Regions from separate parts of the Homo sapiens genome. Here region 2 is linked to region 1. The links come from fine-mapping of genetic effects on gene expression. Tissue or cell type: skeletal muscle. Region 1 holds a variant in brackets; the other region holds the start of a gene. All regions are shown on one strand. Distances are between the middles of the regions.

Region 1 (8,105 bases):
CTGCAGACATCCAGAGTGCCCCTTCTTTGCCGGAGTAAGTCATGTACCTCAGTTGAGAGCTCCCGTTGGGACATAAAGTCCATGAATTCAGTGAGGCCTTGCTCTTCTCTGTGATCAGCACAGAACTCAGCTCTTGGCCTTGCCAGTAGCAGCAGCAGTCAGAGGTAAAGGGGCCTTGGGGGAGAAGTGATTCTGACTCCTTTATTATGTAGGTGAGGAGACTGAGACTACCCCTTCTCTCATCAAGAAGGGAAGGCATCTTTGGGCCTCAGTGGCAAAAAGGTCAGGAGAGTGGGTAGTGGGGTGCTGTTGTTTGGAGCACCCAGTTTTGGAGTCAGACCGACTTGGGTTGAAAGCCAGTGATCCTGAGTAATAACTTCCACTCTCTAAACGTGTTTCCTTCGTTGCAAATTGGGGTTAATAATGTTGTGTTCCTTACAGAACTATTAAGAGAATTCAATGCACAGAGACATATAAAATACTACGCTTGGAACAAAAGAAGTATTTTAAAAGTCGTTAATATTATGCATTTCATTTTTTTTCCTTTTTTTCCCCTTCTAATCAATGTCAGAAAAATTAAGGAAATAGGAAGTCACTTCCAAGGGAGCTCTGGCTGCTCTGCAAACCTGTTAGTTAGCTATGAGATCCAAGCTACTCAGGAGACCCAGAGCAAGTTGTTACTTCTTTCTACTGATTGGGAAACTGAAGAATAGAAGAAATGTAATTGTCTGCCTTGCCTAATGGCATGGTGTAAAATAATAAGAAATATGCAAATTGGTCTTTGACCATGGTTCCTGTCTGACACAGAGCTTCTAAGAACTGTATAATTTTCTGAGAGATTGGAGCTTCTGATACAGAGCTCCTAAGTCTCTTGTAATTTCAGTTGATAGAAGTACATTTTGTGCTGAAGCAACTCTGTGAGCTCCTGGATGGGGGCTAACCACCAGAAAGACCAAGTCATAATTTGAAGCTTGGAACTTTTACCCTTACCTCCCATTTTCTGGAGAGGAGAGAGGGCTGGAAATGGCATTAATAATCAGTCATGGCCAGGCACAGTGGCTCACGCCTGTAATCCCAACACTTTGGGAGGCCAAGGTGGGCAGATCACTTGAGGTCAGGAGTTCTAGACTAGCCTGGACAACATATCGCTACTAAACCCTGTCTCTACTAAAAATAGCAAAAAACAGAAAAATAAAATTAGCTGGGTGTGGTGGTGTGAGTCTGTAGTCCCAGTTACTCAGGAGGGTGAGGCAGGAGAATCACTTGAACCCGAGAGGTGGAGGTTGCAGTGAGCCAAGATTGCACCACTGCACTCCAGCTTGGGCAACAGAGCGAGACTCCGTCTCAAAAAAAAAAAAAAAAATTAGCCATGCGTGGTGGCAGGTGTCTGTAATCCCAGTTACTCAGGAGGCTGAGGCAGGAGAATCACTTGAACCCGGGAGGCGGAGGTTGCAGTGAGCCGAGATCGCGCCATTGCACTCCAGCTTGTGCTACAAGAGCAAGACTCCATCTCAAAAGAAAAAAAATCCCGGCCGGGTGTGGTGGCTCACTCCTGTAATCCCTGCACTGTGGGAGGCCGAGGCAGGCGGATCATGAGGTTAGGAGATTGAGACCATCCTGGCCAACATAGTGAATCCCATCCCTACTAAAAATACAAAAATTAGCTGAGCATGGTGTTGCATGCCTGCAGTCCCAGCTACTTGGGAGGCTGAGGCAGGAGAATTGCTTGAACCCGGGAGGCGGAGGTTGCAGTGAGCCGAGATCATGCCACTGCACTGCAGCCTGGGCGACAGAGCAAGACTACGTCTCAAAACAACAACAACAACAACAACAACAAAACCAAAGGTACAGTTTTTGGGTTGGGGAACACATCCATGTGCTGGGAGGATGGTACATACCAACTCCACAGGGACAGAAACACCCGTGCTCAGGACCTTTCAAGACCTTGTCCTATGTATCTCTTCATGTGTCTGTCCATCTGTACCCTTTGTAATATCCTTTGTAATAAACCGATAGATGTAATAAAATGTTTCCCTGAGTTCTGTGAGCCTCCCTAGCAAGTTAAGTAGGAGGGAGTCATGGGAACTCCCAATTTATAGCCAGAAGTTCTGGAGGCCCAAACTTGCAACTGGCATCTGAGGAGCAGGGCAGTCTGGTGGGACTGAGCCCTTAAGGTGTGGGATCTAATTCTAACTTCATGTAGATAGTGTCAGAATTGAACTGAATTATATGACACCCAGTTGGTGTCCACTGGAGAACTGCCTGGTGTACAGGAGAAAAAAACCCCACACATCTTGTTACAGAAGTGTTCTATGTTAAGAGTATAGTAGGAGAAAACAGTTCGTTTAGTTTATTTTTCCTACTACACACATGGTGTAACAGAAAAAGCATGGGTTTTGAAAGTAGGATTTTGAACTGAGTTCAAATGCTGGCTATGCTGCCAAGTTGCTTTGTGATCTTGGATAAGTTACAGAACCTCTCTGAGCCTTTCTCCGAGATGTTAATACCTACTACATAGGGTTATTATGAAGAGTAAATGAAATGATGTATGTGTATGCCAAACACATGTGAAGTTGTGAAATCTATTTTTTTTTTTTTTTTTGCCTATTCTAGAATCTAATTTTTCCTTTTTCTGGTAGCATAATTTGATTTTTTCTTTAGGGAAGTGCCTTTCCTCTTCTGCACACTCTAATGCTAAAACTGTCAGTCAAGATTCCCTACTTCTCCAGCCAAGTGGTCATATTACCCAAGTTAGGCTAGCCAGACCCTTGTTGCCTGTAATTCGAATCCTTTTGGGGGTGAAATGGAGATGGAAAATGGCTGGAGCTGATTCATCCCAGGTGTCATTCTGAAAAGACTATCTAATAGTTTTTGCCATCTAGATCTCTGTAGCTACCTGGTTCTTGTCTTTTACTTTTTAAAATTAATTTATTTTAGATACAGGGTTTCACTATGTTACCCAGCCTAGAGTGTAGTGGCTTTTCACAGGTATGATTATGGAACACTGCAGCCTTGAATTCCTTGTCTCAAGCAGTCCTTCCACCTCAGCCTCCCAAGTAGCTGAAACTACTGACTTGTGCCGCTGCACACAGCTTAAACCAATAATTTCATTTACTTTATTTTTTATTCTTTAAAAATTTTTTAACCAATAATTCTAAAAAATTAAATTTAACATTGTAATGATTTTAGAAAAGCGGTAATTGCTTTAGAAACAAGTCAACATTTCTTTTTAATTTTAGTCAGTTCAAGTCATGTTAGTCTATGGATTTTAGTCAATGATTTTTTTCCCTTTCAAGTTTTTTATGCTGAAGTGTTTTAAAATAACTGTAGACATTCTTAACTCTCGTAAATTACATAGTCAAAAAGATTTAATTCCTAATTTCTACTCAAATTTCTCCAACTGTACCAAAAATTACTTATACATGCATTCTGTCCAAACTAGGATCCAACCACAGATGACACTTCAAATCTTAGAATCCAGGTGCTATGTTCCTTAAGCCTCTTTTAATGTAAAAGAGGTTTTTTTAGACTTTTTTTTTTTTTTTTTTGAGACGGAGTCTCACTCTGTCACTAGGCTGGAGTGCAGTGGCGCGATCTTGGCTTACTGCAAGTGATTCTCCTGCTTCAGCCTCCCAAGTAGCTGGGACTACAGGTGCACGCCACCACACCCAGCTAATTTTTGTATTTTTAGTAGAGACGGGGTTTCACCATGTTGGCCAGGATGGTCTCGATCTCTTGACCTTGTGATCTGCCCGCCTTGGCCCCCCAAAGTGCTGGGATTACAAGTGTGAGCCACCGTGCCTGGCTTTTTTTTCTTTTTGAGATGGAGTCTCATTCTTTTGCCCAGGCTGGAGTGCAGTACCACAATATTAGCTCACTGCAAACTCAGCCTCCTGAGTTCAAGTGATTCTCCTGCCTCAGCCTCCTGAGTAGCTGGGATTACAAGCACGCACCACCACACCTGGCTAACATGGAGAAACCCCATCTCTACTAAAAATACAAAATTAGCTGGACGTGGTGGCACATGCCTGTAATCCCAGCTACTTGGGAGGCTGAGGCAGGAGAATCACTTGAACCCAGGAGGCAGAGGTTGCAGTGAGCCAAGATTGTGCCATTGCACTTCAGCCTGGGCAACAAGAGCAAAACTCCGTCTTAAAAAAAAAAAAAAAAGGACCACAAACAAAAAAATTCCCCCCCATTTTTAAAAGACTTAAATACACACTAACATAATCTCTAATACCTGATGTCTGCATTCCTAGGATGACCTTAGCCTAGCCCCACCTGCTGGCTTAAAGTGTCTGCCCAAGGAAGCTAAAAAAGCAGCACCTACAGATAGGTTCCTGACCACCATTTCTTAGAGCATTTACTTAAAAGGGCTTAGAATTGTGGATCCTTCCTCTGTGCCTTTGAAAGATATATGTATCTCCCATAATTTAGGAGTGTCTTTCTCAAGGACCTGAAAGCTATTCCATTGAAATGTAATCATTGGAAAGGATAGGGCCTCTGTCCCCTAGTCTCTCTGGGAGGATAGAATTCTAACTCGTTAATTGCCAATTAACAGACAAAGGTGGCCTAATTGGCATTTACACCAACCAACCCTTTGTAATTTTTCCTGACTCAGCGCCCTCTGTTCTATCCCACAACTCAGTCTTTGTCTTTATTTTTTAATTTATTATTATTATTATTTTTGAGACAGAGTCTTCCTGTGTCACCCAGGCTGGAGTGCAGTGGC[G/A]TGATCTTGGCTCACTGCAACCTCCGCCTCCCGGGTTCAAGTGATTTTCCTGCCTCAGCCTCCTGAGTAGCTGGGTGTACCACGCCAAGCTAATTTTTGTATTTTCAGTAGAGATGGGGTTTTGCCACGTTGGCCAGCTAGTCTTGAACTCCTGACCTCAAACGATCCACCCACCTCACCCTCCCAAAGTGCTGGGATTACAGGCATGAGCCACCGCGCCTGACCAATTTTTTTTTTTTTTTTTTGAGACGGAGTCTGGCACTGTCACCCAGGCTGGAGTGCAGTGGCGCAATCGCAGCTCACTGCAACCTCCACCTCGCGGGTTCAAGCAATTCTTCTGCCTCAGCCTCCTGAGTAGCTGGGATTACAGGTGCCTACCACCATGCCCAGGTAAATTTTTGTATTTTTAGTAGAGATGGGGTTTCACTATGTTGGCCAGGCGGGTCTTGATCTGCTGACCTTGTGATCCACCTGCCTCGGTCTCCCAAAGTGCTGGGATTACAGGCGTGAGCCACCATGCCCGGCAAACCGATTATTTTTATTTATTTATTTTTTTGAGACGGAGTTTCACTCTTGTTGCCCACGCTGGAGTGCAATGGCACGATCTCGGCTCACTGCAACCTCTGCCTCCCAGGTTCAGGCGATTCTCCTGCCTTAGTCTCCTGAGTAGCTGGGATTACAGGCACCCGCCACCATGCCTGGCTAAATTTTTGTATTTTTAGTAGAGATGGGGTTTCACCATGTTGGCCATGGTGGTCTCGAACTCCTGACCTCAGGTGATCCACCTGCCTTGGCCTCCCAAAATGCTGGGATTACAGGTGTGTGCCACCCCACCTGGCCTAAATGTTTTTTTTAAGCCCACAACTAACATCATATGTCTTTCTCTCTTTATAAGGCCTAGTTACCTCTAAAAATGGAAGCTGAGTTTAGTTCATACTGCACCCTCTTCCCTATTGCAAAGGAATATTACTGATGAATAGGTGTCCTTACCACTGTAACTAGTTTATTTGTTTATCTTTGACAAGCATGTTGACCAGCGTTATGGAATTTCACTCTATTTACATGTGGCTTAGTGTTCGGCATCAGACTCAGTGGGACCACAATACATTTCTGATCCTCTTTTTCATATAGCTCTTCTCTGGCAAAATTGCCCCCAAAATCCCAGCTGCCTTAGTTTCCTCAAACTTGATCTCTGCTTCCTCACCCCATGAACACTGCTATGTTCTGCTTGGATTTCCTCACCCTGAGCAGAAGCCTAGAAACTGTCTACAGGCAGAAAGCCAAAGTGTTTTTAGGCTCATCTTACTTGCTTTTTTCTTCTCTCAGGGAACAGAGTCCTGTACTCCTTGTCCAGTGTCTGAGAATAGGTATTTCATATAAATTTGTCTACTTTTCTCATTCTTTATCACCAGAGGGCAAGTCCAGTACCAACTATTAGAGGAACTTAGGATTTCATTTTTGAAAAACTTTTAATAATTAATTTAATTGGGTTGGAGTAAAGAAAGGGGGAAAAAATGAAGGTGGACACCATAAGACTTAAAAGGTAAATGGCAAGGAGAGATCTTTTTAAATACATTTAACAGAAGGATAATGTATGGAATATGCCAGCTCCTTCAAATATATAAGAAAAAAGGAAACAACCCAGTGGTAAAATGGGCAGAGGATAATAACAAGCAATTCACAAATGGTCAATAAACACAAGAAATATACAGCATAAGGAAATACAAATTAAAATCCAATGAAAAACCATTCATTGGCTTGGTAGGATGGCTCACGCTTGTAACCCTGTGCTTTGGGAGGTCAAGGTGGGAGGATCACTTGAATTCAGGAGTTTGAGGCCAGCCTGGGCAACATAGCAAGATCCCTGTCTCTACAAAAAACTAAAAAATTAGCTGGGCATGGTGGTGCATGCCTGTAGTCACAGCTACTCTGGAGGCTGAGGCAGAAGGATCACTTAAGTCCCAGAATTTGAGGCTGCAGAAAGTTATGATTGGGCCAGTACACACCAGCCTCAGCGACAGAGCAAGACTCTGTCTCTCTCTCTCTTTTTTTTTTTTTAGCAAAATCAAAAAAATTTTAAATGTCGGCAAGAATACAGCAAAACAGCTACCTTCATACACTTTGGTTCCAGTGTAAAGAAATCTGTTTGACACGCAATTTGGAGAAATGGGGAAGCTGTGGTGAATGGGAATTCATGGCCCTGGACCTACAAAAAGCCTGCATTCCTGCCAGTATGGCTACTTTGTTCATGTGCGCACTGTGCCTGCTCTGGGGGGGTTAATGACACAGGCTATCATCAACTAGCTGAGTCATTTTGTTTACTTGGCTGTTCAGTGCCTCTTATGTGGTGCATTCTCTCTGGTATGCCTTAACATGTTGTTACGAACTGAATTGTGCCCCGCCCCTCCAAGTTCTTATGTTGAAGTCCTAACCACCCCACTTACCTCAGAATGTGACTGTATTTGGAGAAAGGGCCTTTAAGTAGGTGATTAAAGATCCTAATGCAATCTGACTGGAGGCCTTATAAGGAAGAAATCTGGACACACAGAGATACCAGAGACGTGAGTGCACAGAGAAAAGGCATAGAGTTGAGGATACAGTGAGAAGGCGAAAGCTAAGGAGAGAGGCCTGAGAAGAAACCAAACCTCCTGACACCTTGACCTTGGACTTCTGGCCTCCAGAACTGTGAGAAAATAGATTTACATTGTTTAATCCATCCAGTCTATAGTATTTTGTTATGGCAACCCTAGCAAACAAATACACATGTGATACAAAGATCTTCATACTCATGCCCCTTCCTATATGTTCACTTGGAATTCTTTGTCCTTAGATCTCCTTATTCCCAATGTTTCCAGTCTTTCTCATTCAAGGCCTCTAACCAACCAACCAGTCACTCACCACTATCCATGATTCTGAATATATCCTAACCTCAGGCTACTTTTATTCACCAAAATTAGATGGTGCATTTGCCAAAGCTTCCCAGTTAGGAGGATTGCTTCTTAACACCTTGTCTTTCAGGGTCCTCACTATGTCCTATTTTCTGCTTGCGTTTTCTCACCCACCGAGCCAACCTCCTCTGTTAGCTGGCCACAAGAGCATATATGGCAATAGATATAAGCTAAGAGGTGCTAAGGTAAGAGCAGTAGATGACTGGGGGCTCGTGCCACCTGCAGCTTATACACTTTAGCTGTATTTGTGTCTGCTCCTGAATGTACCACTTCTGCATTGCGACAGATTGCTGCTGGCCCATCCACCTTATGATGTGGTGAGTCTGAGAAACAAAACTTTTTTTTTTTTTTGAGACAGAATCTCACTCTGTTGCCCAGGCTGGAGTGCAATGGTGCAATCTTGGCTCACTGCAACCTTCACCTCC
Region 2 (8,105 bases), 170 kb after region 1:
ACCCACAAATCCTTCTGTAATCTAGCCCCTTCCTCACTCTACAGTTTAGTCAACTTCTTAGACCGTTTTATTTCTCTGTGCATTCATTCACATTGTGCTCTTAAGTGGCCTCCTCCACTATCATCAAACTTCCCTTTACCTGTCTACCTCTTACTGATTATAACAACAAATGAGGTCTTTTCTGGTCTCCCCCAATGTGATCAGATGTCCCTTCCGTGTCTGCATCATACCTTTTGCATATCTCTATTATTACAGTTAATTATATTAATAATTATTATATGATAATTATTTGATTATGTCTATTTCCCCTAATAGAGTATAATTTCTTTGTGGTCAAGGAATGTGTCTTGCCCAGGCAGAGTGGCTCACACCTGTAATCCCAGCACTTTGGGAGGCTGAGGCAGAAAGATCACTTGAGCCCAGGAGTTTAAGACCAGCCTGGGCAACATATGGAGAACCCATCTCTATAAATAAGTAAATAAATAAAAATTAATTGGGCATGGTGGCACACACCTGTGGTCCCAGCTACTTGGGAGGCTGAGATGGGAGGATCACTTGAGCCCAGGAGGTTGAGGCTGCAGTGAACCATGATGACACCACTGCACTCCAGCCTGGGCAGTAGGGTGAGACTTCGTCTCAAAAAAAAAAAAAAAGCAATATGTCTTATTAGTCTTTTTATACCCAGGTTCTAAAACAGTGCCTGGGGCCAGGCACGGTGGCTCATGCCTGTAATCCCAGAACTTTGGGAGGCTGAGGTGGGTGGATCACTTGAGGCCAAAAGTTCGAGACCAGCCTGGTCAACATGGTGAAACCCCATCTCCACAAAAAATACAGAAATTAGCTGGGAATGTTGGCACACACTTTGTAATCCCAGCTACTCAGGAGGCTGACATGAGAATCGCTGGAACCTGGGAGGAAGAGGTTGCAGTGAGCCAAGATTGCGCCACTGCACTCCAGCCTGGGCAACAGAGTAAGACTATCTCAGAAAAAAATATAAATAAATAAATAAAAGAGTGATTGGAAATAATATTCAATAATTGTTTAATGAATAAATATCCCTACAGTATATTAAAACTCTATAAAAGCATTTGATATCGTTTGTGGTAACGGGTGGTAGAAACTATTTATCAGGGTAATTTGATTACTCAGGAAAATTGTGACAGAGATGCTGGTGCCCTGAGTCACTGCTCCTGGACACCAAAATTATGCAAGTTTGTATTACTCAAATGAATTGATATGGACACAGATATGGTTACAGTTCCAAGAGGAAACTTTATCCAATCTTCAAGAAATATTTTTTGAGAGACTTGTATGAGATAGGCCCTGTTTTATGCACCAGGAATATAAGTGAACAAAACAGACAAGGTCAGCCAGGCACAGTGGCTCATGCCTGTTATCCCAACACTTTAGGAGGCTGAGGGAGGATTGCTTGAGCCCAGGAGTTTGAGATGAGCCTGGACAACATAGTGAGGCCTTGTCTCTACAAATAAACAAAATTAGCTGGGCATGGTGGTACATGCCTGTGGTCCCAGCTACTTGGGGGGCTGAGGTGGGAGGATTGCTTGGGCCTGGGAGTCAGAGGCTACAGTGAGCCATGATCACACCACTGCAGTTCAGTGTGGGCAACAGGGCGACAGAGTAAGAGCCTGTCTCAAGAAAACCCCCCAAAAAACAGATAAGGTCCCTGCCCTCATGACACTATTATTTTAATGGGAAGAGATAATTAATAATCAATAAGCGGTAGTTTTAGATGATGATAATCACTACCGAAGAATAAAGCCCAGTGCAGGGCTTACTTTACATTGGATGATCAGAGAAGGCTTCATTCAGAAGGGAATATTTGAGGTGAAACCTGAAATAACATGGAGTCACTTATGTAAAAATCAGGAGGAAGAGGGTTCCACGTGAGCACATTAGCCCAAAGGTGGAAATGAGCATGGCAAAATCAAGCCATCAAACACGGACAGGTTGGCTGGCATAGTAGGTGAGAAGGAGAATAGTATGAGAAGAGGAGAGAAAGGTAGGGGCCAGATTATGTAGGGTGTACTGGGCCACATAAAAGTGTCTGAATTTTACTTTTAAGTGAAGTAGGAAGTCATTAGAGGATCTTAAGTGGAGAAAGTATATGCTATGATTCGTCTTCAAAGTTCACTCTCCCAGTTCTGTGAGGAAATGGATCACAGCAGGTGGGCAAAAGTGGAAACAGGGAGATCATTTAGGAAGCTACTGCACTGAACTGACAAAAAAAAATGCTGACTTGGAAAAAATGTTTCCTTTCATGAGGGTTAATTAGAATAATGTAAATTAACTGCTACATTCAGTGTCTGATATATAAACACTCAACAATATATTATACTATTATTATTAGTTTATACCTACAGAAAACTCTTCTTATTCAACACGATATGAACATCAAAACCCTTGAGACAGTAACTTGGGAGGTATACAATGACCATACACTCAAGGTTTAAGAAGTAGAACTCTATTATTTATTTAACAAAATGTGTTGAGGATCTACACTGTGCAAATTATAAACTGGTTTGCTGAGCCAGCATAGGGAAACTGGATTAATATATCAGGCATCATAGAATACTAGATCTGGAAGGGATCTAGAAGAGTTCAGCCCCTCACTTTACGACAAAAGAGCAGCCCAGAGAAAGAAACTGTGGTTCTCCCTAAACTAAAAACTGAGAGGCTCATACCTTAGGTTGCCCCAAGGACACACTCTGAATAACTAAAGATTTTCATTAACAATATAAAACCACAAATTTTAAATAAAATGCTATCTTAGCAGTAATGTGCTACACTAAGAAAAATGTAATATGCATATAAAGCCCTGGATACAGTGCTTTGTACGGGGTGAACACTCAATAAATGGTAACTACTACTTTCAGCAGCTAAAAAAAAAGTCTGTATGGTCTTTGGAAGGCTGAGAGTGTGTGGTCTACCTGACATCAACTACTTGACTTGAGAGTAGAGCCACAGGAATTTTAATCTAATTCAATTCTTTGATTTTCCAGATGGAAAAAATGAGGTCTAAAGGGGCTAGATTCAGGCGTTCAAGGCTGCGGTGAGCTATTATCATGCTAGTGCACTACAGCCTGGGTGACAGAGCAAGACATTTTCTCTAATAAAAAAAAAATAATAATAATAATAAAGGGACTAAATGACTTGCAAAGCCACCCACAGTGAATTAGAGACAGAGACAGAGCCAAAGCCAAACCCACATGTAGTGGGTTTCCACTACATGTCACAGCTATAAGGTAGTGTTTCAAACTTTTATAAAAGGGTAACAAGAACATAGCTGCTGTACTGAACTTTTTCACTCCTTTTATTAAGGCCACCAGTGAGCTATGAATTTGATATAAGGAGCAATCACACCAACAATCAGGCTGTGAATATATAATCCATGAGTTAACAACGAAACAGTCTTAGGAACGCAATTCTATCATAGACACCTGATGAATAGATGGAGTTCACCTGAGCAGCTGTTATATGCACTTCAATAGAGAGACTACAAAGCCTCTCTACTTGTAGAATACAAGTACAAAGAAGATGCTTTAAAACATTTTCCAAAGCACACTTAAAATGTGACAATAGCTGCCGGTCACTAAGAAGCTAAAGGGAGATAAATTATCTTGGCATACAGCAACAGAATGGTTTATTTTAAGCAAAGACTAAAAGGAGTCTAATAAAATTATTGGGAGACCAAGGCTAAAAGCCACAGATGCAGGAAGAGTTGCAGCAACCAATCCAAAAAAGTTTAGCCTTTCACAAAGAGTAGAAAGGCCAGCTGTGGACTGTGTGTGGACTTTTAGGTCCTTTTGCATTGAAGATTAGGGTGGCCTCCCCCTAGCCTCGAAATAAAAAATCGTCTCTGAAGCAGAGAGACAACAAGGCAGGGCATGAAGAGGAATCCAATCTATTTCTTGTAAATTAAATTCAACTCAACAAATATTTCCTGAAAATCTACTATGTGCAAGACATTGTGAACGATGCTTGCCTTACCTCAAAGGCTTCAAAATTTTATGGGAAAAGGGAAGCGAACGGGCTTCCCGGAAGTAAACAACCCAAGGGCGAATAGAAATGCCCTAAAAGAGGTGCCGGTCAGGCTTATCGGTTCAAAAGCAAGAAGGCTTTGGGACTCAAGAGTTTAGTCTCCCAAAGTGAGAGAAGTGGCGTTCAAGATAATTGCTGAAGAAAAGGCAGAGATATGGGGATGAAAGATAGGAAAGTAGGTGAACTTTAGGAAGAGCCAAGAGGGGCCAACTCTCGGTTCCCTCACAACTGCCAGTTTCCTCCCGCGCTCAGCCGACGTCACGCGCACCCGTGTCCGCGGGCAGGCGCCACGGTTCCGGACCAGACCTACCCCTCCTCTATTCTCCCCGCCCTTTCTCACCTCGGTCCAAACTCCTCGGTCTGCCCTGTCTGAGAAGAGGAGAAGACAATGCCGTCGGGAGTGAGCCCCAAAGCCCGCAACCTAACAGTCCCGTCAACCCGGGAGCCACCGGCGGCGGCCAGGCCGCATCTCCATGGCAACGCCGCCAAGCGCCAGTTCGAACGCCCGCGCTGTGGCCCGCGCGTCGCCAGTCCCGCACCGCCCACCAATGGGCATCCAAGGAATCGGTTGACGTTCGTTGACTTCTCCTCTGGAAGACCAATCAGAGGTCTGAAGAAACCGTGGGCGTAACTCTCAATTTCCGACCTTCAGCCAATCGTTCCGCTTGAGGGAAGATCTCGCGACGTTTCAGTGTGAGACGCGCACCTTTGAGGCGGGTCGAAGATCCTTCTGCCGAATTCTATTGATGGGCCCAAGCGTAACCAGGCTCTTCTGATTGGCCGGTGTACTTCAGTTTCCGTCCAAGGTCCGCCTCCTACCTCCTTCTGCTTCGGGTGAGTACCCTTAAGGGCCCACTTGATTTTAGTTCTCAGTGGAGGAAATGAGCCTTGGAGCGATGGGAATCTGCCTCTGGCAAACCTCTGGTCGCTGCAGGGCCCGAGAGGGATGCGCCCTCCTCTAAGTTGGCAGTGAGGTGTGGGCAGGCCAGGTCCCATCCGCTCTCAGGACCTCAGTTTTCCTGTCTGCACCGGGAGAAGGGAGGTTCCCTGACTCTGAGCCTTGCTTGTCCCCGTCGGAGTGGGGATAGGGTGGGTCGTCCAAATCCCAGAGGCGGGAGAGGTCCAGGTTTAGGGCCCAGAGGCCCAGGCGCCGAACCTTCCCCTCCCTGGGCCTCAGTTTCACTTGTTGCTACCCATTAAACCCCGCCTGCTTTCCAAAAGAGATTTTATGTTTTCTAATTGCTTCAGTTATTGAATGGATAATATCGTGGCAGTTATAGCAGAAGTAAAGAAAGTCGAACAAGAGCCCCACCGCCTTAAACAAACAAACAAAAAAGGGACAGCGTAAACAATGCAGGCCGGGTGCGGTGGCTCACGCCTGTAATCCCAGCATTTTGGGAGGCCAAGGCGGGCGGATCACGAGGTCAGGAGATCGAGACCATCCTGGCTAACACGGTGAAACCCCGTCTCTACTAAACAAAATACAAAAGTTAGCCAGGCGTCGTGGCGGGCACGTATAGTCCCTGCTACTCGGGAGGCTGAGGCAGGAGAATGGCATGAACCCAGGAGGCGGAGCTTGCAGTGAGCGGAGGTCGCGCCACTGCACTCCAGCCTGGGCGACAGAGCGAGACTCCGTCTCAAAAACAAAACAAAACAAAAAAAAACTGAATGCAATCAAATTGTCAAATGTAAAACGCTATTATAGAGTTAAGGTTAAGATCATTGATGTTAGGAGTCAGGCAGACCTACATTTGAGTCACTTACCCAGACATCTCTGAGCTATAGTTCCCTTTCTACTCTTCTGAAAAATGGCAGTAATGCCTCAGCGGGTTGTTGTGAAGATTAAGTGAAATAATGAAGGTAAAGCACTTGACACAACGCCTGGCGAGTAGTAACTTCTTAAAAAATGGTAGCGGCCGGGCGCGGTGGCTCACGCCTGTAATCCTAGCCCTTTGGGAGGCCGAGGCGGGCGGATCACGAGGTCAGGAGATCGAGACCATCCTGGCTGACACGGTGAAACCCCGTCTCTACTAAAAACACAAAAAATTAGCCGGGCGTGGTGGCGGGCGCCTGTGGTCCCAGCTACTCGGGAGGCTGAGGCAGGAGAATGGCACGAACCCGGGAGGCGGAGTTTGCAGAGAGCAGAGATCGCACCACTGCACTCCAGCCTGGGCGACAGAGGGAGACTCCGTCTCAAAAAAAAAAAGGTAGCTATTATTCTTATAATAAGAACAGGCAAATACACTAGTCAGTGCGTTGGTGTACTTTTTGTAACTGAGTACCCAATTTTGCCCAAAATTAGTCAGTTAAGGGAAAAAAGGTAATTCTTACTAATAAGGAAACAAATCCATTCTTCAAAAGATAAATTATTTTTCTAGTTTCTATATTAAAAGGAATTTATGCTGTGGGACCTTATAAGGAATATATATACTGTGGTGAACAGTGTTGAGCAGTTTAACAGACAAGATGAAAAGTCATTTCTTTAAAACAGAGAAGCTTTTTGATGATCTTTTATGACACACGGGTAACAGTAACTCATATATTTAGTACCTCTGATAATGTCAGACCCTCTATATATGTCATTTATAAACTCCACAACAACCATGCAAAGTAGGTGTTAACTTCATTTTACAAATGAGGAAGTTAAGTATCTTGCTCTAAGTATCTTGCTCTATTAACTTCAATAGCTAGGCCTTTCTGACTGCATAGACAGCCATGCTTTTCTGTGTTTCTGACTAAAGGAGGATGAAAATGCTTGGAATACCAGACAGATGCAGGGGCAGGTTGGACAGCTTGACTTACCTAAATTGGAGGGAATGTGAGCTGCAGAGGTACCTATGGTAGGAGCAATATCTTGCTCTAATAGAAAATTTTCACCGTGGTCTTGGTAGAGAAGGGAGGAGAAAAAAATTGTTTTAATAAAAATAATTTTAAAAAAGTAAATTCCCACCTTGGGAAATGAAGAGATAGGATGAGATGATCACTGAACTTTAGACCCATCTGTTCATTTATCTTATGGATAGACTATAGCACTTCAAATTCAACTTGTCCCAAACAAATGCTTCACTTGCACCCCCTCCTCCACCCAGGCACTCAAACCAAAGCCTTTCTCTTTCCCTTGGCTTATGAAACATCTCTCTGTCCCTTAGACAATGAAATATCACTATTGTCCATTTTACTTTGAAATATCTCTCAGATTCATCCCTTCCTTTCCTTTCTCACAGCCTCTGCCTTGATCTAACTGGAATCATTTGTTAACTGGTCTGTTGCAATAGACTTGTAACTGGTTAATCTCTCTGCCTCCAATCTGTCCTAATTCGTTCCCCAGCTTGCTTGCAGCTAGAATATCTTTGTAAAATGTCAGTCTGACCAAATTATACCCTTGCCTAAAACCAGTCAGAGGCTTCATTGCCTACAGAATATAAACTAAGCTGTTTACCAATGAGATGTCATTTTGTGCTTGAGGGTGTTGCCCACACTCCTCCCTTTGCTGGCAGTGCCTTGCATCCGCCTCCCTTCTGCCTGGTAAACTAGTGACCCATCAGAATCCTTATGGGGTACCTTGTTAACCTAAAGATGCTTCTTTGCTGCCTTTCCATCTTACGTTGCACAAAACACACTGTAACTTGTCTGTTGGAATGTCTTCCACTTTCACTAGCCTGTAAATCTCTAGGAAGTTGGTGCTTGGTAGTATTCAGCTTCATATCTATCTGTCAATCCTTCACACTGTCTGTCGCATGGGATACGCACAACAGACAAATTCCCCGAGTTAGCTTTCTAGAATTGTACAGCAGATGGCACTAATAGGCTGCTTAACAAATCCCCTTCACTAAGAATGATTTTTGTCCCAACCTTGTCTGACTTTGGCCTTATCCTAGAAGCCAATATTTATGCCATTACAGGTAAAATCTCCTGTTTCCTCCCTCAGCCAATAGCAAAAATAACAAAATGACTCAGCAGCTTCGTCTCTGCAAGAATGGAGTGGCAGATGTCCAGGGAAAGGTGCATTTGAGGGAATATTTTCTTTGTCTCAATTTATTCATGGT

Evidence for each region. PIP is the estimated chance that this variant, and not a neighbour inherited with it, causes the effect.
Region 2: it holds the start of KIF24, and the variant in region 1 is fine-mapped to the expression of KIF24 in skeletal muscle (GTEx, PIP 0.90).

Annotation. Positions count from the first base shown.
Region 1 is chr9:34,151,508-34,159,612 of GRCh38, forward strand. No RefSeq gene overlaps it. Among named protein-coding and RNA genes, the nearest start is that of UBAP1, 23 kb to the right of the region's middle. The variant G/A (reference allele first, on the strand shown) is at 4,733.
Region 2 is chr9:34,324,707-34,332,811 of GRCh38, forward strand. It overlaps KIF24 (kinesin family member 24), which reads right to left and starts at 4,562. Exons shown (of 13, transcript NM_194313.4): 1 at 4,400-4,562. NUDT2 (nudix hydrolase 2) reads left to right here and starts at 4,863. Exons shown (of 5, transcript NM_001161.5): 1 at 4,863-4,893. RefSeq lists enhancers at 4,229-4,288, 4,389-4,488, 4,576-5,083, 4,619-4,808.